7 linked regions of the Homo sapiens genome follow. The protein of the gene in region 5 interacts with the protein of the main gene of each other region in a pairwise test. Each region holds a gene or a part of one and is shown on either strand. Other genes may lie near its edges.

What was found.
Region 1: the proteins of GTF2B (region 5) and SYNCRIP interact in binary tests that used the Homo sapiens proteins (3 or more experiments, as listed by UniProt).
Region 2: the proteins of GTF2B (region 5) and IK interact in binary tests that used the Homo sapiens proteins (3 or more experiments, as listed by UniProt).
Region 3: the proteins of GTF2B (region 5) and DCAF8 interact in binary tests that used the Homo sapiens proteins (3 or more experiments, as listed by UniProt).
Region 4: the proteins of GTF2B (region 5) and SEM1 interact in binary tests that used the Homo sapiens proteins (3 or more experiments, as listed by UniProt).
Region 6: the proteins of GTF2B (region 5) and NVL interact in binary tests that used the Homo sapiens proteins (3 or more experiments, as listed by UniProt).
Region 7: the proteins of GTF2B (region 5) and C14orf93 interact in binary tests that used the Homo sapiens proteins (3 or more experiments, as listed by UniProt).

The regions. Positions count from the first base shown.
Region 1 is NC_000006.12:85,636,387-85,639,886, reverse strand, and holds part of SYNCRIP (heterogeneous nuclear ribonucleoprotein Q), read left to right. Parts: intron 1-2,530; coding exon 2,531-2,644; intron 2,645-2,743; coding exon 2,744-2,920; intron 2,921-3,500. UniProt on the Homo sapiens protein: Heterogenous nuclear ribonucleoprotein (hnRNP) implicated in mRNA processing mechanisms. Component of the CRD-mediated complex that promotes MYC mRNA stability.
Region 2 is NC_000005.10:140,654,329-140,657,828, forward strand, and holds part of IK (protein Red), read left to right. Parts: intron 1-187; coding exon 188-258; intron 259-352; coding exon 353-399; intron 400-1,500; coding exon 1,501-1,664; intron 1,665-3,225; coding exon 3,226-3,334; intron 3,335-3,500. UniProt on the Homo sapiens protein: Involved in pre-mRNA splicing as a component of the spliceosome. Auxiliary spliceosomal protein that regulates selection of alternative splice sites in a small set of target pre-mRNA species. Required for normal mitotic cell cycle progression.
Region 3 is NC_000001.11:160,242,050-160,245,549, forward strand, and holds part of DCAF8 (DDB1- and CUL4-associated factor 8), read right to left. Parts: intron 1,986-3,500; 5' UTR 1,960-1,985; coding exon 1,911-1,959; intron 1-1,910. UniProt on the Homo sapiens protein: May function as a substrate receptor for CUL4-DDB1 E3 ubiquitin-protein ligase complex.
Region 4 is NC_000007.14:96,690,555-96,692,846, forward strand, and holds part of SEM1 (26S proteasome complex subunit SEM1), read right to left. Parts: intron 1-2,292. UniProt on the Homo sapiens protein: Component of the 26S proteasome, a multiprotein complex involved in the ATP-dependent degradation of ubiquitinated proteins.
Region 5 is NC_000001.11:88,860,568-88,864,067, reverse strand, and holds part of GTF2B (transcription initiation factor IIB), read left to right. Parts: coding exon 1-87; intron 88-3,500. UniProt on the Homo sapiens protein: General transcription factor that plays a role in transcription initiation by RNA polymerase II (Pol II). Involved in the pre-initiation complex (PIC) formation and Pol II recruitment at promoter DNA.
Region 6 is NC_000001.11:224,299,173-224,302,672, forward strand, and holds part of NVL (nuclear valosin-containing protein-like), read right to left. Parts: intron 2,600-3,500; coding exon of another isoform or gene 2,519-2,599; intron 1,492-2,518; coding exon 1,390-1,491; intron 1-1,389. UniProt on the Homo sapiens protein: Participates in the assembly of the telomerase holoenzyme and effecting of telomerase activity via its interaction with TERT. Involved in both early and late stages of the pre-rRNA processing pathways.
Region 7 is NC_000014.9:23,007,344-23,011,406, forward strand, and holds the start of C14orf93 (uncharacterized protein C14orf93 isoform a precursor), read right to left. Parts: upstream 2,801-4,063; 5' UTR 2,758-2,800; exon of another isoform or gene 1-2,757.

The sequences.
Region 1 (3,500 bases), on a different chromosome or scaffold from region 5:
AACTGGCTTTTTTTTTTAGGAGTCTCAAACCCCAATGAATTTAGAATGTTAACCCTGCTGCCCTCCACTTCCATCAGTATGGATTATTAGACTATTTCTCAAAGCAGCTTTGACAATAAGATTGTTTAGTGTGGGTATGTAGATGAGAAACTGAGGCTAGGAGGAGGAGGCTTTTTTTTTGGTTTAAAATCATGGTGAATGGCTTCAAATTCAGCTTGGTTTTGATATTTATATTGGTGAGTTTTCTAATTTATAGACAATGTGGTGATTGTATTACTTTTTAACCTGGTGTGCTTTGTAGTGTGCCAGTGCTCTTGAGCCAAGCGTATGGTTTAAGAAAATCAGTTAAGGGTATAGGCCTTGAGCATTGTTGTAGTGGTGTGGAAACAGGGAAAGCCTAGAATATGGAAAAGGTTGGTATATGGAGTTAGCTGTTTAAGACAACCATGAATTGGAGGCTTTCACAGATCTAGCTGTGAGTGAATTGAGTTTGATCTGTAAATCTAGTTTTTCCATAAAAGTGGAGTATAGTTGTCTCCATTGTAATTCAGTTGTAATCAAGTTTGCATTGGTGAGCTAGAACTAAAGTTTTTAAACTTTTAGTTTGTGACTTTTAGCTTTCAGTTTTTTTTGCAAGGGGGTGGCTTAATTTTTTGTTTGTTTGTTTGTTTGTTTTTGGGAGACAGAGTCTTACTCTGTCACCCAGGCTGGAGTGCAGTGGCGTGATCTTGGCTCACTGCAACCTCCACCTCGCGGGTTCGAGCAATTCTCCTGCCTCAGCCTCCCGAGTAGCTGGGACTACCGGTGGGTGCCACCAGGCCCAGCTGATTTTTGTATTTTTAGCAGAGGTGAGGTTTCACCATGTTGACCGGGATGGTCTCAATCTCTTGACCTCGTGACCCACCCACCTTGGCCTCCCAAAGTCCTGAGATTACAGGTGTGAGCCACCATGCCTGGCTGCTTACAGTTTCAATGAGAGCTAAGTTGTGGTAAAAAGGCATAGAGACATTTTTAGAGGAAGTTTGACAGAGGGAATAAGTTTTTCCTTTTTGTTTTTATGGATTGACAAAAAGTGTTATTTGGGTCTTAACTATTAAGGTTAAAAAATCCGTTTATAGCATAGGGATTACATGTGAGAAAATGGAAAGATGAGCTATTACTCATTTAGTTTATGTTATAGATGTGAGCAAGTTTATGAATGTTTTTATTAATTACAGTATTTTTCATAAACAGTTAGTGTCCTTTGAGTAGAAAATGTTAAAAATCTGTCCAGTAATTTTCAGAGACTGAGGTGACCCTAGATTATGCATTTTGATAAATTTTGTCAGATAGCTAGGATTAGTCTGTTTTTATTTCAGAATGTCCTAGCTAATAAAATTGGTTTTGTTTAGAAAACCACTTTTGTGCTTTGTGGTTGAGACAGTGGAGAAGGGGAATAATTCTTGACTTTTTCCTTCAGATAATGGAGGAGTGTACCTTTTTTTTTTTTTTTTTTTTTTTTTTTTTGAGATGGGGTCTTGCTCTGTCATCCAGGCTGGAGTGCAGTGGCGCGATCTCCGCTCACTGCAACCTCCGCCCCTCCAGGTTTAAGCGTTTAAGCAGTTCTCTGCCTCAGCCTCCTGAGTAGCTGGCATTACAGGCGCGTGCCACCACGCCTGGCTAATTTTTTGTATTTTTAGTAGAGACAGGGTTTCACCATCTTGGCCAGGCTGGTCTTGAGCTCCTGATGTCCTGATCCACCCGCCTTGGCCTCCCAAAGTGCTGGGATTACAGGTGTGAGCCACTGCACCCAGCCTATACTTCTTTCTATACTTTGCCTAGAATAAGGAATAAACACCTAATGCTCTGAGTAAATATGAGTTGTGTAAATTTTAACAGTTACTTTTTGGGAGTTAAAATGTAGAGGTTATGTAACGTTGCAGTTTCATAAAGTTTTTAAAAGTCGTTTTGGCTGTTACTTTTTTCTGAAGGACCCATGCTATCCCATGAAATATGGCACGTAAATGTCAAATAATAATAGGAGATTTTTTTTCCCTGTAGCTCCCAAGTTTCTAGACTTGGTATGGGAAGTGTAATTTCTTCTGAGGTTGGCACAATGCCCAGAATGGCAGTATGTACCTAGGAGTGGGGTTTATAGGGAATTTATTGGGTGAGAGATCCAGATTTGAAAGATGCTCAACCAAATTAGGTACAATCATTTTTTAAGATGGTATTAACATAGTAATACATCCTGTCTTGAAAGTTGCTGATGGATTGGTCTTAACTTTTTGTTGTCCATTAAGCACACTATTCAGTAATTAAGTGGAGACTAGAAAGTAATTTGAACAGGACCCTGGACTTCTGATAATAATTTAGGAGTATAACAAGTACACATTTAAGGGGAAATTTTAAAACAGACATCACAAACCTGTTTTTATAAGGGAACATGCCAAGATAATTGGAAAGATTTGAGCAAGATGGATGTTAACTGCTAAATATATGGGTGTGGTCTAGTGAATTAAATGTATTAATGACGTTTGAACTTTTCAAGGCACTCTTGGAAAGAACAGGCTACACACTTGATGTGACCACTGGACAGAGGAAGTATGGAGGACCACCTCCAGATTCCGTTTATTCAGGTCAGCAGCCTTCTGTTGGCACTGAGGTAAAGCAACTAAAAACTTGTACCTTTTGTAGTAAAAGCACAGGTATCTGGTTTCCTAAAGCAATTCTCCATGGTTTTTACTTAATATTTAATTTACAGATATTTGTGGGAAAGATCCCAAGAGATCTATTTGAGGATGAACTTGTTCCATTATTTGAGAAAGCTGGACCTATATGGGATCTTCGTCTAATGATGGATCCACTCACTGGTCTCAATAGAGGTTATGCGTTTGTCACTTTTTGTACAAAAGAAGCAGCTCAGGAGGCTGTTAAACTGGTAAGTTGTCCTTTTTTCCCCTTCAGTTTTCACGTTCACTGTCTTTAATATCAAGTTTTTTTCTTAGTGTGCCTAAGAGTTTACCAAACATTTTTTGAAGTACTGATTTAGGCAGGTTTTTTTTTTCCCACATCACTGTGCAAGCATTGTAGTGTTATTCTTTGCATGTATAGTTGATAGGATTCAGCATCTAAAAGGCGGCATGGTAGAATTCCTAGCAATTGGTTCTTATAAACATCTGGCTTAGTGACGTTTTTGTGTGTTTGTTTAAATTTATAGGAATGTGAAAAGATTAAGAAAAGTAACTGTGGTAAGAGCTCTCATACTTCCTGGCCATACCTGAGCCATCTCTTTTTCTTAAATAATTCACAAAAGACATTGTGATACATTTCTAGTTGATGAAACAAAAGATTTTATGGTGAGTGGCAATGTTTGATTTAAAAATACCAGATGTTAGGTAAGGACCTGGTAATCTTTCCAACTTTTTTAAAAAGGAAATTTTTCTTTTTTCTTTTCTTTTTTTTTTGAGACCAAGTTTCTCTCTCTTGCCCAGGCTGAAGTGGCATGATTTCGGCTCACT
Region 2 (3,500 bases), on a different chromosome or scaffold from region 5:
ACAGCAGTTATTGTACTTTGTTGAAATTGTTTAATTTGTCTGTCTCATCTGCTATAAGCTCCATTAGAGTAAGAACAATATCTGTCATGTTTAATATTATATTCTTAGTTCCTGGTACAGTGTGGTGTAGTGGATGTTCAATAAATATATAAAATGAGTGTCCTAACCCTGCTTGCTTTCCTGTTAGGTACGAGCTGAGATTGCCAGCAAAGAGAAAGAGGAAGAGGAACTGATGGAAAAGCCCCAGAAAGAAACCAAGTAAGTAAATATTATGGAAAGGTTGAGAATTTAGAAAGGTGGGACCTAAAGTTAGAGCACATTTAGCAAAAATAAAACTTTTTTGTCTTTTCAGGAAAGATGAGGATCCTGAAAATAAAATTGAATTTAAAACACGTCTGGGTGAGTACAGTTTCTATACTAGTGACTATGCATTCTGGATGAATTGTACGGAATTTAATGCTCTGGGAAGGATATGCTTCTCCTTTCCCCCAACCTCCTTTCTTCTTTCTTTCTTTTTGAGACAGTGTCTCACTTAATCGCCCAGGCTGGAGTGCAGTGGTGTGATCATGGCTCAGTGCAGCCTTGACCTCCTGGACTCAGCCTCTTGTGTAGCTGGCACCACAGGCATGTGCCACCATACCTAGCTAATTTTTTTTTTTATTTTTTGCAGAGATGGGGTTCTCTGTGTATTGCCCAGGCCGGTCTCAAACTCCTGGGCTCAAGTGATCCTCCTGCCTTGACCTCCCAAAGAGCTGGGATTCTTTCTTGCCCCCAAAACAACTAACTCCCATAAAATACTCTAATAAGACTCAGACATAGATTTAATTATTTCATATGTCATTTATGTCTCCTCAGGTAGATTGAAAGATTTTTCAGTTTGGGGCTTATGAGTTAAAAGAAGTAACATGGTTAGTGATTAAAAGTTCAAAACTTGGAGTCAGAGAGACCTGAGTTTAAACCTTGATGATGAAACAGCACTAAGTGTATGATTTTAGGCAACTGACTTTGCTGTTTGTTCATCTGTAAAAATTGGGTTACTATTTACCACATGACTTTATTGTAGGGATGAAGAAAAATGAAATCTATAACATGCCTATCATATTGAGCAGGTAGTAGAGCTGTTTTTTCCATCATCATCAATATTACCTTAAACTTCATCCTTCTTCCTCACAGGACTTAATACAATACAGGTGCATAGTGCCCTTGAAGAGGCAATGTAGAAGAGTGGACAGGAGCCCAGGCTTTGGAGTTACATGGCCTGGTTCCATTCTTTGCTCCATTACTTAGTAGATACATGACTTTAGGTAAATTACTTAAATCTCAGCCATAGTATTCTTATCAGTAAAAAGGATAATAATATCCACTTCATAGGGCTGTTGCAAAGATTAAATGACGCAAAGCTTGCATAGCACTTGGCATGGTGGCTAGCACAGAGTAAGCACATAAGTGACAGCTGTTCTTGTAGATCCTGGCTACTTGCTGCTCTTCTCCTTATTGTAGGCCGCAATGTTTACCGAATGCTTTTTAAGAGCAAAGCATATGAGCGGAATGAGTTGTTCCTGCCGGGCCGCATGGCCTATGTGGTAGACCTGGATGATGAGTATGCTGACACAGATATCCCCACCACTCTTATCCGCAGCAAGGCTGATTGCCCCACCATGGAGGTGAGTGAATGGAATCCTGAGAGCCTATCATGTGAGCCTCAAGCCTGGGAATCAGCCTGGCCTCTGCCCCGTGTCCCTTGTCCACCATGTCACCAAGTGCTGTTCACTTTTACCTCCTAAATCTCAACTGAATCCATTCACTTTTCCACTTTTTCACCAATAACATTCCAGTCTAAGCTATAATCATTTGCTGGAACTATTAACTTACTATTTTTTTAGAGACCAAGTCTCACTCTGTCACCCAGGATGGAGTGCAGTGGTGCTATCTTGGCTCACTGCAAACTCCGCCTCCCAGGTTCAAACGATTCTCCTGCCGCAGCCTTCCAAGTAGCTGGGACTACAGGCATTCATCACCACACCTGGTTAATTTTTTTATTTTTAGTAGAGATTGGGTTTTACCACGTTGGCTAGGCTATTCCTGACCTCAAGTGATCCATCCGCCTTGGCCTCCCAAAGTACTGGGATTACAGGCATGAGCCACTGCGCCAGTCCTCTGGAGCTATTAAAAAGGCTTCTAATTGGTTTCCGCACTTCCACTCTGGTTTCCGCACTTCCACTCTGATTTGTTATTATATCTTGTTATTGAGGTGTTATTCACATGCCATATAATTCATCCTTTAAAGAGAATTTTTTTAAAAATTTTTGTGGATATATAGTAGGTATATATATTTATGAGGTACATGAGATGTTTTGATACAGGCATATAATGCATAATAATCACATCATGGAAAATGGGGTATCCATCCCGTTAAACATTTATCTTTTGTGTTACAAACAATCCATTTATACTCTTTTAGTTGTTTTAGAATGTATAAATTATTACTGCCTATAGTCACCCTGTTGTGCTATCATGTAGTAGGCCTTATTCATTCTTTCTATTTTTTTGGTACCTATTAACCACCCCTACCTCCCCTACCCTTCTAAAATATACAGTTTGGCTGGGTGCAGTGGCTCACACCTGTAATCCCAGCACTTTGGGAGGCTGAGGTGTGAGGATCACTTGAGGTTAGGAGTTCAATACCAGGTGGGCCAACATTGTAAAACCTGATCTCTACTAAAAATTAGCCAGGCGTGGCGGCATGTGCCCGTAATCCCAGTTACTCGGAAGGCTGAGGCATGAGAATTGCTTGAACCCAGAAGGTGGAGGTTGCAGTGAGCCAAGATCGTGCCACTGCATTCTAGCCTGGGCGACAGAATGAGACTCTGTCTCCAAATAAATAAATAAAATGTAAATTTTTGTCTCACTACAGTTTAGAAGCTTTTAGTAGTATCTCATTCTTAGGATAAAGAGCAAAATCTTTACCATGACTTTGAGCCTCTGCAACATCTGGCCTTTCTAGAATGTTCTAGACTCCTGACTTTCTTGAATGGTCTTGATTCATTTTGATGCAGGGCTTTTGTGCAGGCTGTTTTATCTCTGGAATATCCTTTCACAGCACTTCGTTTCCCTCCCTTCACCTACTGTATTGTAATTCAGTCTTTAGTTTGTTAAGTGAATGAATGAATAAATGAAGAGATTTCTGCTGAGTGGTTTAACATTCTTGTTTCTTGGTATTTTCAGGCCCAGACCACACTGACCACAAATGACATTGTCATTAGCAAGCTGACCCAGATCCTTTCATACCTGAGGCAGGGAACCCGTAACAAGAAGCTTAAGAAGAAGGATAAAGGTACCTGGAGGGTTAGAGAGAGAAGCCTTACCCACAGAGGACGTTTGGGGATAAAACCAAGGTCTCCTGGAGCTTTCTGTCTCCAGAATATTGAGAGGCTCCTGGGAAGCAGAGAAAAATGGGAGTACTGGAGCATTGGCAAGGAGACAGTTACAGCCAGATTCTG
Region 3 (3,500 bases), about 71 Mb from region 5:
CCGGCTAACATGGTGAAACCCCCATTTCTACTAGAAATACAAAAAATTAGCCGGGCGTGGTGGCATGTGCCTGTAATCCCAGCTACTTGGGAGGCTGAGGCAGAAGAATCGCTTGAACCTGGGAGGTGGAGGCTGCAGTGAGCCGAGATTGTGCCACCGTACTCCAGCTTGGTAACAAGAGCAAAACTCTGTCTCAAAAAAAAAAAAAAAAGCCTCAACTAAGAGCACAGTATAAAACAACTGGGCTAGGGGCTGGAAGAAAAAGTTATGAAGTACAGAAATTTGAACCCAAGGACCACATTTGCTGAGCCTGTTATATATGCTACGAAAGTTTAGCAGTTACAGTTTTTTGAAATGCAGCTGGGCTTGAGCTTGGGAGTGGTGAGCAGGGACTGAAACACCAACCTAACAGGTCTGTAGAAAAGAAAAAATAAAACACCAAAACATCTAGTGTTTATTGTTAAAATTATGAGTAACAAATATAGACAATTTTGGAGGCCTTACCACATTAACATAAGGGCCAGAGGGTATCACAAGCTCATCAAGAAGTCCCCAACAGTAAATCACCAAGATCTAGAGTAGGGGTTTGCAAATTTTTTCTGTAAAGGGCCAGATAGTAAAAACCTTAGGCTTTGCAGACCATACGGAGCTCCACCACAACTACTCAACTCCAGTATGTAGAACAAAAGCAACTCATAGACACTACATAAACGAACAGGCATGACTGTATTCCAATAAAACTTTACAAAAACAAGTGGCAGGCTGGATTTGGCCTGCAATTTATAGTTTGCCAATCCTTGACCTAGCTAATGGTCAAGCTCCAAATCAATAGTATACTTTAACTCCTCTAGAACCCTGTGCCTTTCAACTAAACCCAGTGAAAAATATGAACCACTTTCCTTTACAAAAGATGAATGAATGGCAGTGATAAGAACATATGGAGCAATAAAAAAGCATGTTGAAAATCTCACTTATCCTTCCTCCAATCACATCAACTAGAATTTAGCCTGTTATCCTGACCTTCAAGGTGCTAAGGAATGCTGGACTCTGTGCTGCCCAACTATATCCATTTAAAGGCGGCTTCTCTAATTTAAAAGTTGGCTCAGAGGTGAAGAGCTGGTTAAATAACCCAGGTGGTAGTTATACTCTATTAGAATTTTTATATTCTGCCTTCAAATCTGCCCTAAAGCCAGTGATTTGACACTTGGCAGCACTGGTCCTGAAAAGAAGGAGGAGGGAAAGGAAGGAAGGAAGGAAATAAATGGAAAGAAGGGAGGGGAAGTAAGGAAAGGAAATAAGGAGGGGAAAGATGTCCCACTCCTAGTTGGGTTGTAACTTCATCCCTTATGTAATCACCTTTTTTTTTTTTTTTTTTAAAAAGACGGGGTCTCGCTATGTTGCCCAGGCTGGTCTCAAGCTCCTGGGCTCAAGCGATCTGCCTGTCTCAGCCTCCCAAAGTGCTGAGATTATAGGCATGAGCCACCATGCCCAGCCATGTAATCTCTCTATCAAACTACTACTTACTGTGGAAAGGGACCTCTCAATATAACTGGGAAGCTCATCTTCCCTAAAATTCCCTTGTTCCTACTAGCCATTAGATTTTATTTTTCTCCTTTACTAACAGCATTTCCTAGGTTCTGCCCATCCTTATAGCTTTATAGAACTCCAAACCACTTGACCTCTTAGAAGTACAGCTCTGTTATTGATATTTTGAAAATGATCAGATAAAATCAGAAGAAGCAAAAGCATAATATAGTCCAAGGTGTTTCCTGTGTAGTTTCCTAAACTCAGAACAACACAGGAAAGTTTCCCTCTCTCCACTAAAATCCAGGCCTCCACTCTATCTTGCAGGGAGGAGGACAACCTCAGTTGATAGTAAAAATAGCTTCACCTTCATTTTGGCCCCTTACCATTAGCTAAGTCTGTTCTGCCATCTGTGCTGCTCCCTTTGCTGGACATCTTGAATGATGTTTGCTGTAGCCAGCCTGGGTTTGGGAGAGGAAGAAACCAAAACAATTAGGAAACCACCTGGGAAAGAAGACAATAGGGACAAGGAGATTTAACAATGTACAGGTTTTATCATTTTTATAAAAATGATTTGTGTATGCATGCTTAACAGGTCTTCTCAGCTTGTGAAATTTTTTCTTCCTTATGTTTTCTTCCCTATGTTTAAAATCCATATAATGATATATTTTTGGGGAGGTCAAGTGCCATCTCTTTACTTCACTCACTGAGTAACTGGCAGTGATTTTTCAGATGCGAAAGTGGGAACTAAAATAAAACCTGGAACAGGAGGCACATATCAAATGACAGGTACTGCAAGCCAAGAGTCTCAACTCAATACATAAAGCTAACTTCAGCATTGCCCCCTAGGCAAGAATCTTCCAATGTAAATAAGTGACATATGTATCCTCAAACTCTGTACAACACTTGTTTTCACAACATAAAGAGGTGGGTCAGATTCTGAGTATCATTTTACACACAAATCAACAGAAATCAACCTCTTGGGGGAAGAGATTGAGCTTTCTGTTCACTCAGATGACTAACTTCAAACCTATTATTATTATTCTTTCTTTTTTTTTTTTTGAGACAGAGTCTCATTCTGTCGCCCAGGCTGGAATGCAGTGGCGCTATCTAGGCTCACTGCAAGCTCTGCCTCCCGGGTTCACACCATTCTCCTGCCTCAGCCTCCCAAGTAGCTGGGACTACAGGCGCCTGCCACCATGCCCACCTTTCTGTATTTTTAGTAGAGATGGGGTTTCACTGTGTTAGCCAGGATGGTCTCGATCTCCCGAGTGATCCGCCCGCCTCGGCCTCCCAAAGTGCTGGGATTACAGGCATGAGCCACCACGCCCAGCCCAACTAACTTCAAACTTATTAAAGGCACAGATACTAAGGATTATAGAGCTGAAACTAGAAATCAGGAGCACCCTATCCCTAGGAAAGAAGCTTAAGTTGTTTTGTTTCCCTTAGGACTAACAGTCAGAGTCTCTAAGCACAAAGACAAAGGTGGGGAAGAAAAAGGCAACATTTCCATTAAACCATCTCATCCCATTTCATATAATGGCAAACACTGTTTCACCTAACAGCACCAGCTTTCACCAGACTCATCTTTCCTTAACAAGGAATCAGGGTATCTAACTCACTTCCTTTTATGCCACTATAAAACATTCATATTTTTTTCAGAGCCTCACTGCCACCTCCAGTAAATTCCAAAGAGCAAAGAATAATATTATTCAGACCAGAATTTTATTAAGCCCTTTCAGTGACTTGGACAAAAGGCACTAGTAAAAGACAAAGTATAATTATGACCCCAGTCCTTGTACCCAGGCACACTGGCCTCTAATCTTTCAACAGCCCTTTCATTCCCATGACAATTATTCCAGAAGCAGCCTCATCCTTATCTTTTCCTCCGCTACCCTCTATAGAAATCTAAGCTGCTTCATTAAAAGTATCCTCTGTCAAAAGACAGTAGCCCAAAGATTGTTCATAATAGGCCA
Region 4 (2,292 bases), on a different chromosome or scaffold from region 5:
CAAAAATAGAAAACCTCAGCACAACTGTTAATATCATACGACATACACAGTGAACATACACTATCTGAAACGAAAACAGCAGCAGTCTTTGTGCAACAAAACAAGAAAAAAGACTAATGGCCACTAGTAGGTTTGAAAAGTCCTCTTACTATCCAAGAAACTACTCAGCTTTATGACAATGGCTATATCTGATTTGGTAAATCAGGAACTATACTGGATTTTTTTGTTGTTGTTGAGATGGAGTCTCGCTCTGTTGCCCAGGCTGGAGTGCAGTGGTGCCATCTCGGCTCACTGCAAGCTCCACCTCCCAGGTTTATGCCATTGTCCTGCCTCAGCCTCCCTAGTAGCTGGGACTACAGGCGCCCGCCACCAGGCCCAGCTAATTTTTTTGTATTTTTAGTAGAGACGGGGTTTCAACATGTTAGCCAGGATGGTCTCGATCTCCTGACCTCGTGATCCACCGGCCTCGGCCTCCCAAAGTGCTGGGGTTACAGGTGTGAGCCACTGCGCCTGGCCTATACTGGCTTCTTAGAGTTTTTATGTAAGACGTGAAATAGGGTTGAGAAAAATCATACTACTACCTATTTCTCTTAATACATAAACAAATGATATCAGAAGCTGCAAAATCAGAATGACTTTGAGTTACCTGGAAGAACAAAGTGGCCTTATTCTTTCTACTTCTGTTAAAGGTAATTACACGGAAAGAGAAAGACGAATGTGGAAAGTGGGGGGCCTGCGACATGGACAGTTTTTATTTAACACACACACACCACAGTCTAAGCACTCTACACATGTTAAATCACTTAAACGTTATAATAACTCTAGCAGTAAAGCACTAATTATCATCTGAGTTTTATGTGTGACAAAAGTAGGTCACAGAAAGGCTAAGTGAGTTGCCCAAGGTTCATATGGCTAAATAGGAGGCAGATCTGGGGTTGGAACCCCAGCAATCTGATTCACACTAGAGTCTGAGATGCCTCTCCACTGTTAAATAGGATTAGGACCAAATAACATCAGACAACAGTAAACTCCATTCTTTACCATGACTTATGATATTATGTTAAGGGTTTCCATGTACTTTACAGAAAAGACTAGGAAGAATAACTTTGTGTGAGTCTTTTAATCAAGACAAATTTTTTAAAGCAAGGATTGTGCGAGGCTGTTTTATTCAATATGGTAGTCATATGTGGCTATTTTAATTGAATAAAACAAAAAATTCAGTCCCTTAGCTGTGCTAGCCACATTTCATGTGCTTAGTAGCCAAATGTAACTGATTGCTTCTATACAGCAGCTTCTCAAACATTTCCATCACTACAGCAAGTTCTATTTGACACCACTGGCAATGTGGCAACAATCTTAGTGAAGAAAGAACTCATGACTCAAATGGGGAAATAAAAAGAAAAATCTTATTCACTAATGGAGGCATCAAGATTTATATACCTCAGGCAAAAAACAACAACAGTGAAAAAACAACAAAAATAGATTTATATACCTATAGAAATCCACAAACCTAAAGGCAGAAACACAAGAGTACATAATGGCACTGTGGGGGTGTATTATAAAAACAGTAAGCCACAAATATATAATGTTCTATTTCTAAAGCAATAAAAAGGCAACATGTAATGATGTGAAATCTAATTATCAATACATTTACTACTGAAAGTTTCTTGGTAAAAATTATAGTATTCAACAATGTATCAATCAGTTTTAAGAGAAAAGTGCTAATGAAAGACATAAAAGAAACAAAACTTCAAAGAAATTTGACTATTTTGAATGTCAAAGGAAGAAAACTTGTTTAGCCTCAATTTCAAAATGTCAAAAACATATCAGGAAGAAAACTCTGACACGTGATTAAAAACACAGAGTAGAGATCAACAGCATTTGGAAGACCTGAAAATAAATAGTCTAATAGCATAATGATGCCAAGGCGGAACAAAAGGGAATGTATATTTTTCAAAAGCTAGTAGGGTGTTCTCTAATGTGGCTCATTTTTTGAAGGACATAAAACAAAGACAGATATAAAAAGAAAGGGCATGAGCTTGTACACATAGAATTAATCTGATCCTCGAAATAAACTGAAATCTGTAAAAAGAACAGAAGGGGCTTCTAAGAGCCATATACTGATCATGAAGAATGAGAAAGAGCAGGTACAATGCTTGGAACAGATGATGTAACATTAACAGATTTTAGAGAAAAAGCAGGATTATTGTTCAATAGCTATCATTTTTATCTTGTCCATAAAACTATAAAAGGAAAAACAACATAATTAAGACAAAATTGAAAACTAAGACA
Region 5 (3,500 bases):
GACAAAGCAACAAAAGATCCATCTCGAGTTGGAGATTCTCAGAATCCTCTTCTGAGTGATGGAGATTTGTCTACCATGATTGGCAAGGTAATAAGTCCATTTGGCAGGAAATACCAATTGCAGAGTGACCATAGACCTGAGAGTTTGGGAACTTTGCAAAAGTATCAGTCACTGCACCAGTGGGGAATCTTGACCTGTCTAATAAGATTTGCCAGTAATATCATTGTGAATGATGGCTAACTTGTGTGTGTATTCCATCTTAAAGTGGGGAAGACCATTAAATCAAAATTATAAAGCCTTTATATCAGGCCTTTTTTCATAAATGACATTTTCTGTACACACAAAAAATGAGTGTAGTGTGGCCTTCATGAGTTAATATTGATATGTTCTTTGAATATCAAGAATGTCTTCTCAGCTGGGCATCATGGCTCACACCTGTGATCCCAGCACTTTGGGAGGCCAAGGCAGGCGGATCACAAGGTCAGGAGTTCGGGACCAGCCTGGCAAATATGGTGAAACCCCATCTCTACTACAAAAAAAAAGGAAAATAGAAAAATTAGCCAGGCTTGGTGGCGGGCACCTGTAGTCCCAGCTTACTCGCGAGGCTGAGGCAGAAGAATTGCTTGAACCCAGGAGGCGGAGGTTGCAGTGAGCCAAGATCGCGCCACTGAACTCCAGCCTGGGCAACAGAGTGAGACTCTGTCTCAAAAAAAAAGAAAAGAATGTCTTCTCTTTTCTCTCTATACCACTTAAGATAAATGGGAGGTTAGTGTAACCTCTTTTCTGATATTAGTGAATTTATGACTTACCTAACTTTACATTCCTTATCTGTAAAATGAGAATAAGAGTACTTATAGAGTTTTTGAGGGTTTCATGAGAATGTATGTAAAGTATTTATATAACATGTATTGTATACTGTGTGCTCAGTCAGTGGTAGCTGCTATCATTGTGTAAGGCAATAGTATAGTTTTCTTGGCAGCCTGATTCTCACTCTGTTATCCGAGTTGGAAGTAATAGTGACGGTATTACTGAGGGCTAATCAAGGAAGTATACACCATTTTATAACTTCATGTATACTATTGCATAGTCTCTTTTTTTTTTTTTTCCAAAAAAGTCTTGTTTAAAATCTGTCTGGCTGGGCACAGTGGCTCATGCCTGTAATCCCAGCACTTTGGGAGGCCGAGGTGGGTGGAGATCAGGAGTTCAAGACCAGCCTGGCCAAGATGGCGAAACCCCGTCTCTACTAAAAATACAAAAAGTAGCTGGGCATGATATGATGGTGGGCACCTGTAATCCCAGCTACTCAGGAGCCTGAGGCAAATAATTGCTTGAACCCGGGAGGCGGAGGTTGCAGTGAGCTGAGATCGCGCGACTGCACTCCAGCCTGGGCAACAGAGTGACACTCTTGTCCAGGCAGGTCTTGAACTCCTGGTCTTCAGCAGTCCTCCCGCCTCAGGCACCCAAAGTGCTGGGATTACAGGCATGAGTTTACCATGCCGAACCCTGTATAGTCTGTTTTGTTTTTGAGACGTTCTAACACTGTCGCTAAGGTGGGAGTGCAGCAGTAGCTTGATCTCGTCTCACTGCAACCTCCACCTCCCAGGCTGAAGCGATCCTTCCACTTCAGCCTCCCAAGTAACTGGGACCACAGGTGTGGGCCACGACACATGGCTAATTTTTGTATTTTTTGTAGAGACAAAGTTTCGCCATGTTGCCCAGGCTTGTCCCAATTCTTGGGCTCAAGTGATCCACCCACCTCGGCCTCCCAAGGTGCTGGAATTACAGGTGTGATCCACCATCCCTGGGCAAGATAGAAATATTTTTAAGCTGCTAGATTTATCACATAATAAATTTCTATGTGTACTTGGGCATATTTCTCAACTTTCTATCTTTTCCTGTCCTGGTCCAGTTAGTCAAATGCCATACAACACTGTTTTAGTATTTAGTAGCACTAGTTTTCCCTCATTGCTCTTTTTCAGCATTTTCTTCGCTAGTCTTTTCCATTTAAAGGTTAAGTTTGTTTCATTTTTTAAAAAAATTTAGGTTTGTTCACTTGCATTTTTTGTACCTTTGGAGTTGATTAAATGATTTTCCTCTTCAGCTCTATTAATATGATGTTTTATGTTATTAGATTCTTTAATATATTTGTGGAACAGTCTCCACTTGGTTGATATTACTGCCTTTTAATACCCTGTTGGATTCTGTTTCCTGTGGGGTTTTTTGGTTTTCTTCTTTTGAGACAGGGTCTCTTTCTGTCACCCAGTCTAGAGTGAAGTGATGTAATCATAGCTAACTGCAGCCTCAAACTCCCAGGCTTAGGTAACCCTCCTGCCTCAGCCTCCTGAGTAGCTGAGACCACAGGCGTGTGCCATCACACTCGGCCTGTTTTGTTTTGTTTTGTTTGAGACAGAGTTTCGCGCTTGTCACCCAGGCTGGAGTGCAATGGCACGATCTCTGCTCACTGCAACCTCCGCCTCCCAGGTTCAAGCGATTCTCCCGCCTCAGCCTCCCAAGCAGCTGGGATTGCAGGCATGTGCCACCACGCCTGGCTAATTTTGTACTTTTAGTAGAGGTAGGGTTTCTCCGTGATCATCAGGCTGGTCTCACACTCCCGACCTCAGGTGATCCGCCTGCCTCAGCCTCCTAAAGTGCCAGGATTACAGGCATGGGCCACTGCGCCTGGCCTGTTTTTTAATATTTAATATTCTCACTGGGGTTTTGGTCAGATTCATTTGCAAATTGACACAGGGAAAATTGGCTTCTTCATAATAAATCTTGTATTCAAAAATTCATAATGCCTTTCCATTTCCTTAGGTATCTTATGTGTCCTTCAGGAGATGTTTGAAAGTTTTCTTCATGAACGTCTCACATGTTTCTCAAGTTTATTTCAAGATTTTTGTTGTTGTTTTAATTGAAAAATTTGCTTTCCTTGTCTTTTAAGTTGGTTGATTGTACTTATGAAGGGTATTGATTTCTATTTATCTTGACCTTGCTGCTTTAATGAATTATTTATAGCAGCTGTTTTTTAGTGATTTTCTTGCATATTCCAGGTGTATAAAGGTACTATCTGCAAATAGTTTATCACATCCTTTCCAATTTTGTACTTCCGGTTTTTCTCTTGCTTAATACTATTGGCTAGTTTTTCCAATCAGTGTTACAAAATGGTAGCAGTAGGAGGTACCTTTGTCTTGTGATTTTGGTGATAATGCTGGTAATGTTTCTCCATTAATCATAGTACTTTCTTTGGGCAGAGGAGAGTGGTTTTCTAATGTAAAGAAGTACTCATTTGTAGCGTCCTATGAGTTTTTATCAAAGACGAATTTTGATTTTGTTCATTTGCCTTTTTAGCGTCTTTGGAGATGATCATGATTTTTCTTCTTACATCTATTAATATAATGTTTTACATTATTTGATTCTCTAATATCTTGTGGAACAATCTCTAGTTGGTCATGATATACTACCTTTTAATATGCTGTTGGATTCTGTTTTCTAGTATTTAA
Region 6 (3,500 bases), about 140 Mb from region 5:
CATCCTTATGACAATGTTTGCAAAAGACGCCTATGACTGCTAGATATATTACCCAGTTACAAAGGAGTAAAATTACAGAGGCCAAAAGCACCAGAAAACAAGCACATCAGTACTTGTCAGTGACCTGGAAAGTTGAATGGGGGAAAAAAAAGAATAAATGATGGTCATCAGAATGTGGCCTAAAGAAAGCATAGTTTTCAACCAAGTATCACTTGATTGGATTTCACCTTTTTGTTTCCTGATCCACATGCTTTACTGGACTCATTCTCATTAGCGAAGAGGGGACCAGGAAAAGCGGGGTGCTAGGCCACATATTTACTGAGCATCTACTGTGAGGTACTGTACTGGCTCAGTACTGGTTTAGTGAGAGGTTTAAACACAGAACTAACAACCTAAAGATGCCATTTGCCTCTTATCCTTATTCATCGTGTTTACCATACGCACAAAATTTACTACTTGTCTCTGGCTATGCGTGCCAATTTAACAATGGAATCCACCGCGTTTTGGAAAACAGGTAGCACCTGAGAAAGTTCAGCTTTGCTCTGCACTCTGCCCTTTCCACCTTTTTTCTCTTTATCCTCCTAGTGTTGCCCACAGCTTTTTCAACGTCAGCCCGCACCATAACTAAGTAGATGGCCTACCCATTCTTGTTATTTAAAATGTTTTTTTTTTCTCAATTACTGCTTAAATATAATTTCTCTTCTAATTTCACACAGGCTTCTAACAGTTGTATTGGATATTCATCAGCTACTATATATTGTCATTGCTAATAATGACATAAACTTTTCACCATTTTTTAGTTTTAAACACAGTGATATTTGTTCAAGTGTGAATAATCTTACAGCTAATATTTACAGGGCTTGTGCTGTGTGCAAGGCACCATATCGAAGGTTTTATAAGAATTCTCTCATTTAATACTCTCAATAGCCACGTGAGATTTGGGTATTATTATTGCCCTAGTTTACTAGTAAGGAATGACAGAATTTATTCTGGTATTTTTATGGTTGCTTTTATAATAGCCTAAATAACAATTTTTACATTGCTTACAAGTTTTTTTTGGCCAAACTTAAGTTGAGGAAAGTAAAAGTGAGTGGAAAATATCATAAGGATAATATATTTTCAACATATGACTACAGGGTATGACGGCCCAGAATTTCTCACCAATTACATTTATGTTTGATTTCAAATGAAAAGGGTTATTTATCCAACAGCTGGTATCACTAAATCTACTTTAAATATTTAGCCATCATGCATAGCAAATTACCATGTTTATATTAATAAAAGAATGGCCAGTGAGTGGGTTAACAAATACTAGCATCAGAAAAAGCAGGATCTTTAATATAAGCTGGTAGCGTCTGACCACCTGGCATTAGTCATTAACTGACTCACCACAGCTTGCTCAAATAGTTCTCTCAGCTTCTGCTCAGACTCTCCGGATACTCCAGACACAATCTCTGGAGCAGCCACTTTCAAAATTGGCAGGTCAAGTTCCTATGCAGACACATAAAAGAATAACCAAATATTCAAATTTTAATTTCCCTACTTTTTCTTATCCAGTCCCCTCAAATTTTTTAAATAGCTAGTTTCCTGAGGAACTTCATCTTTTTATGTTGGCCCAGTGAAAAACACTATTTGAAAATCAATGGTTTTGGCCGGGCATGGTGGCTCAGGCCTATAATCCCACTACTTTGGGAGGCTGAGGTGGGCGGATCACCTGAGGTCAGGAGTTCGAGACCACCCTGACCAACATGGAGAAACCCCATTTTTACTAAAAATACAAAAATTAGCCATGCATGGTGGTGCATGCCTATAATCCCAGCTACTTGGGAAGGCTGAGGCAGAAGAATTGCTTGAACCTGGGAGGCGGAGGTTGTAGTGAGCCGAGATCGCGCCATTGCACTCCAGCCTGGGCAACAAGAGCAAAACTCCATCTCAAAAAAAAAAAAAATCAACGGTTTCATGCAAACACATTTAAGTGGATACCTTCAACTTGTTTTTATTTTATACATGTCACTATAAAATTCTATTATCTTTTCTGAATAAAGGGTCTTGACTTTCAAGAGGTATGTTATCCCCACTTAGGGCTGAGCCAAAGCAATTCTTCGTTTTTTTTGGAGAGACTGTGTCTCACTATGTTGCCCAGGCTGGTCCCAAACTCCTGGCCTCAAGCCATCCTCCCAATTCAGCCTCCCAAAGTGCTGGGGATACAGGAGTGACCATTCCTGGCCTATCAAAACAATTCTTACCCATCTGCTAAGGAGAAAATAGCAAGGGTTGTGACACAGATGTTTCCCACACATTCTGCTAGTATTTCTCCAAATCCTAACCCAGAGAGTAGCCAGTTACTAGTCAGAGGAGGGAGACTCTTTAAGAAGAGGCCAGGTGTGGACGCCCATGCCTGTAATCCCAGCACTTTGAGAGGAGTTTGAGACCAGCCTGGGCAACACAGTGAGACCCCACCTCTAAAAAAATAATAAATTAGCCAGGCATGCTGATGCATGCCTGCAGTCCCAGTTACCTGTGAGGCTGAGGCAGGAGGATCATTTGAGCCTGAGAAGTCAAAGCTGCAGTGAGCTGTGATCATGCCACTGCACTCAGCCTGGGCAACAGAGAGAAAATCTGTTTCAAAAAAAAAAAAAAAAAAAAAAAGAGAGAAGAGAGACTACTGTTCTCCCATTCTTGTGCTTATCTTGAAATTTCACTTCCTCAACCATACCTTCCTTGAACCCAACTCTAATTTGGGAATCCTAACATACCACATACCATTTTGCACTTCTTCTTGTCTTCCATTTATTATAGTCATTATTATGTACAGCATTTATTTATATGAATGACTGTTTAATGTCTCTCTCATATTAGAACTACGATTGTGGTACTTAACACTATATTCCAAAGTCTGGCATGCAGTAGTCAGTCATGTAATGGAATTATTAAACAAAAATGAAGCAAACCAATCAAGTCCCCCTTTACAAATGATTTTCTTTCATAGAACATTATTGTATTAGCGCTTGGTATAACATGCTATTTTTCTTTTTTCTTTTTTTTTTGAGATAGAGTCTGGCTCTTGTTGCCCAAGCTGGAGTGCAATGGCATGATCTTGGCTCACCGCGACCTCCGCCTCCAGGTTCAAGTGATTCTCCTGCCTTAGCCCCCAAGTAGCTGGGATTGCAGGCATGCGCCACCACACCCGGCTAATTTTGTATTTTTAGTAGAGATGGGGGTTTCTCCATGTTGGTCAGGCTGGTCTTGAACTCCCGACCTCAGGTGATCCACATGCCTCGGCCTCCCAAAGTGCTGGGATTACAGGCATGAGCCACTGCGCCCGGCGAGCATGCTATTTTTCTAATCGAAGTTACTCGGATATTTTACATTACTGTCCCCTACAGTTTCTGAAAAATCTGAGAGGGTTAAAATAAGATTGCTAACTTTTAATTTCTCAAAGTAAGTGTCTATTATTACCATTTTAGAAAGAATTATTTTAAAACTAAAAAGTATAAGAA
Region 7 (4,063 bases), on a different chromosome or scaffold from region 5:
CATCTTTAGCTTGTTTTTGTTTACTTGCTTTTGTTCTCTGCTGCTCACAAACCTGTGTGTACACGATTATAAGCACAGTGGCCACAAATCGGCGTCACACGTTGGGTGGTGGCCGACTTTTAGTTACTGCTGGCCTCGGTTACATTTCTTTCACATGTCACCTGCAAATTAGCAGCTCCTCACAGTTCAAAGAAGTTTCCAATACTAGGGGCCCCGAGGATTCCCAGGCAAAATCAACAGAGTTTAGTTTTGCTTTGCTTTGGAAGGCCAAGCCAACGATATATATGTGCGAGGAATTCTCTCCTTTCTTAGGAAGAAAAAGCAAGAACAGTGGATATGACCCTACGTTCCTGGATGTAGAAATCAAATAGCCTAGGAAATCAGGGATACGGGCTCTGCACTGTTCAGGGAGAGCTCTCCCTATTTTTTGAGACGCTAAAAAGTAAGGTAAAAAGTATATGTGATGACCTGTAGTGATGTGGAAAAGAGCTAAAAAGGGTAAAACTCCATTAAAAATTCCCGTAACTGGCCGGGCGCGGTGGCTCACGCCTGTAATCCCAGCACTTTGAGAGGCAGAGGCGGGCGGATCACCTAAAGTCAGGAGTTGGAGACCAGCCTGACCAACATGGTGAAACCCCGTCTCTACTAAAAATACAAAAATCAGCCCGGCATGGTGGCACATGCCTGTAATCCCAGCTACTCGGGAGGCCGAGACAGGAGAATCGCTTGAACCCAGGAGGCGAAGGTTGCAGTGAGCCAAGATCGCACCATTGCCACTGCAGCCTGGGCAACAAGAGCGAAACTCCGTTTCAAAAAAAAAAAAAAAAAAAAAAAAAACTCCCATCACTGTTGTGATCACAAAGATCACTAAAATGTGACTAGATTTCAAAGAAATGCAGGTCTGAAATTGTGGAATAATCCACAGTCGAGCCAGTATTTATTAAGCACTGGTCTGACTTGAATTGTTAGAGAATAAAAATACACTCAGCACAAGTAAGAAACCCAGAAAGCCCAAACAGGGCCACTTTTGTTATAAATTTGTACAAGTAACTTTATTGCAGTCAGTATTTAGGAGTCAAATACTGCTTGAAATAGAGTAGGATGCTAGCTGTGTAATAGAAATGCATTATTATACAGAAGTTTTGTTGTAATGAAATTTAAATTCTACAGTAGATTTTTTTTTTTGTCTCCTGGTTGTCACTGCATTTGTGACATTCCAGTTTCTCCCTCAGCACCTCATATACCTCCTATGCTTTCACTCCAATCTGCGAATACAAATTTGGATACAGATATTTTCCATACAACTTCTAATGAGGAGATAGTGATTCTGTAACAGAATGAAGTGAAAATAGGGCTCCTATAACAGGAGGTTCTGCTCTGCGAGCCTGTTTTTCTCTAATTCATATACTTTTTTCTGTGACTCTTAGAAATGAGAAGCTTTCCATTCTAAAAATGCAACATGATAACCAAAAGGCATTTCTTATCCCTTCTATTATTTGCCTTTGCATCCTCTTGGCTCCCCATCACCATCACCATGAACAGTTTTTGAGAATTACACTTGACTGGATTTTTTTCCTGATACTTTGCCAGCTGTGGAGCTTTTCGAATATTCCAACCAATAAACGACCATTTTGTCAAAAAGCCAAGAAAGAACTTCCCTTCTGAACACACCAACCAAACCACACATAAAGGCCAAAATATACACAGCTGTACACTTAAGAACGTGAGACAATAAAAAGCAAAACCACTTAGGCAAAACAGTCACTGAAGGCTTTGAACCACAGATTCAATAAATTGCCTACTCTCATTTGCCACATGGACTATATACTCCTTGGCAATTATTTAATTATTCATTATTCTGATCCTTTAGGAGCAGAAAAATATAGTAAATGCACATAGAAAGTGCCTAAGTATGCTAAGCATAGGATTTCTTCTAAGCTCTGCTTTGCACACAAAATATTTTGATCACATTTGGGAAGACAACGGAAAAAAATTCACATCCTAGGGGATACTTTGCACACATAAAACCAGATATATTTATCACTTTTGAAAATAAAATCTGATATGGCACATATACACACATATTGTACATATACACAAATAACCCCAAGTTATAACTTTACAAATTTGTTTCAAGAAACACACACACACACACACAAATGTTCTAATGAAAATGTGTGTGAAAGACACACTGTAATTAAGGTCTTTCCCCCTTCCCTAGGGAAATGAATGTCTCCATTATAATATCCCAATATTAACTTATTGGCCTTGGACAAGTGCCACATCCCAGCCACTTGGTTTTGGTTCTGGGGGGGTGGGTGTGTAAAAAGCACGCAAACGGCTTTATGAGGGAGCCTCAAATCTCTCTGCTTCCTTCGATGTTGCCTGTGGCAGAAATTTACATTATCCCTTCAGCCCGCTTAAAAAATTCTGTACTTCCCAAGCGGCTAAATTTTTAAAGTCCCTCAACCACAAAAATCTACCAGTTCTTAAAATGTGATTTAAAAAAAAGAAAAAAAAACTATAAATTTGGCCGGAAACGGTTGTACACGGCCATCCTGCTTCTCAACTTCTTGGTATATTTAAAACCTTGACCAGGAAAAAGAAAGAGGAAGAGAGACAGAAAAAGAAATGGGGGAAAGAGCAAATTCCCCTTAGCAACAGTTTCCTCACCCCAACACTGCTACAGATCTCTATTTTTAAAAAATTTGAAAACACACACAAGATTAAGGAGGAAAAAAAATGGAAAAAGGATACCCGAAGGTCGTATGGCTCTTTGTATTCGTGTGTGTGCAAAAAGGAGGACTCGCGGAGCCCGAGCCGGCAAGCCCCGCCCCTCCCCGGACGCCCTCCCGGATTGGCCGTCCGCGGCCGCGGGGCGCCCCGCCCGCAAGCACACGCGCCGCGCCCGAGGCGCCAACCCCGGAGTTGGGGGCGGGGGGGGCCCTGAGGGCCGCCGGACCCCCGACCCCCAACCTCGCCTGGACCTTGGCAGACCCCTTTCCCACCTCTCTCCCTTTCACTTTCTCACCGTCCTGTCACCCTTTCCCATCTTTTTTTCTCAGTGAAACAAGGCCCAGTCACCAGCATAACAATCCAGTGAGCGACCTCCGGACACTTTGTTAAATTGAGTGAACTAGTCAGTAACATTCTAGACTGCAATTAAACATCAGGGACTTGGTGCGTGGGCCCTACTCCGGTTTCCAGGTGAAATGTCTCTGGGTCACGTGTGTTGCTTAACACCCCCACGTTTAAATGAACATTCACGTATGGAACATCTTTCTGAAGTCTTACACTTCAGCCCGAGCTCCCAGTTTATCTACCTGGCTCAGACCACATTCTCAAAACTAAAGTGGCTCCTCTTTATTTCCAGGAAGACAGCTGGTATACCTGGATTTTAAGCCACCCATAATCTGGTCCCACCCACCTATTTGTTATTTATTTATTTATTTAGACAGAGTCTCGCTCTGTCACCCAGGCTGGAGTGCAGTGGTATGATCTTCGCTCACTGTAAACTCCGCCCCTCCGCCCCCACCCCCACCCCCACCCCCACCCCGCCCAAGCGATTCTCCTGCCTCAGCCTCCCAAGAAGCTGGGACTACAGGCGTGCGCCACTGCACCCAGCTAATTTTTTTTGTTTTTGGTAGAGACAGGGTTTCGCCATGTTGGCCAGGCTGGTCCTGAACTCCTGACTTGAGGTGATGTGCCCACCCTGCCTTTTTTTTTTTTTTTTCAGTGATGTGATCTCGGCTCACTGCAACCCCCACCTCCGAGGCTCAAGCGATTCTCCTGCCTCAGCCTCCCGAGTAGCTGGGATTACGGATATATGCCACCACGCCCGGCTATTTTTTTTTTTTAAGTAGTGACGGGGTTTCACCATGTTGGCCAGGCTGGTTTTGAGCTCTTGACCTCAAGTTATCCTCCCGCCTTGGCCTCCCAAAGTGCTGGGATTACAGGCGTGAGCCACCGCGCCTGGGCACATATTTGTTCTTAGTTCCCTCTACGCTCGTCTTATCAATCTTGTATTATTCCTTTACTCAAGTGGCTTTTTTTTTTTTTTTTG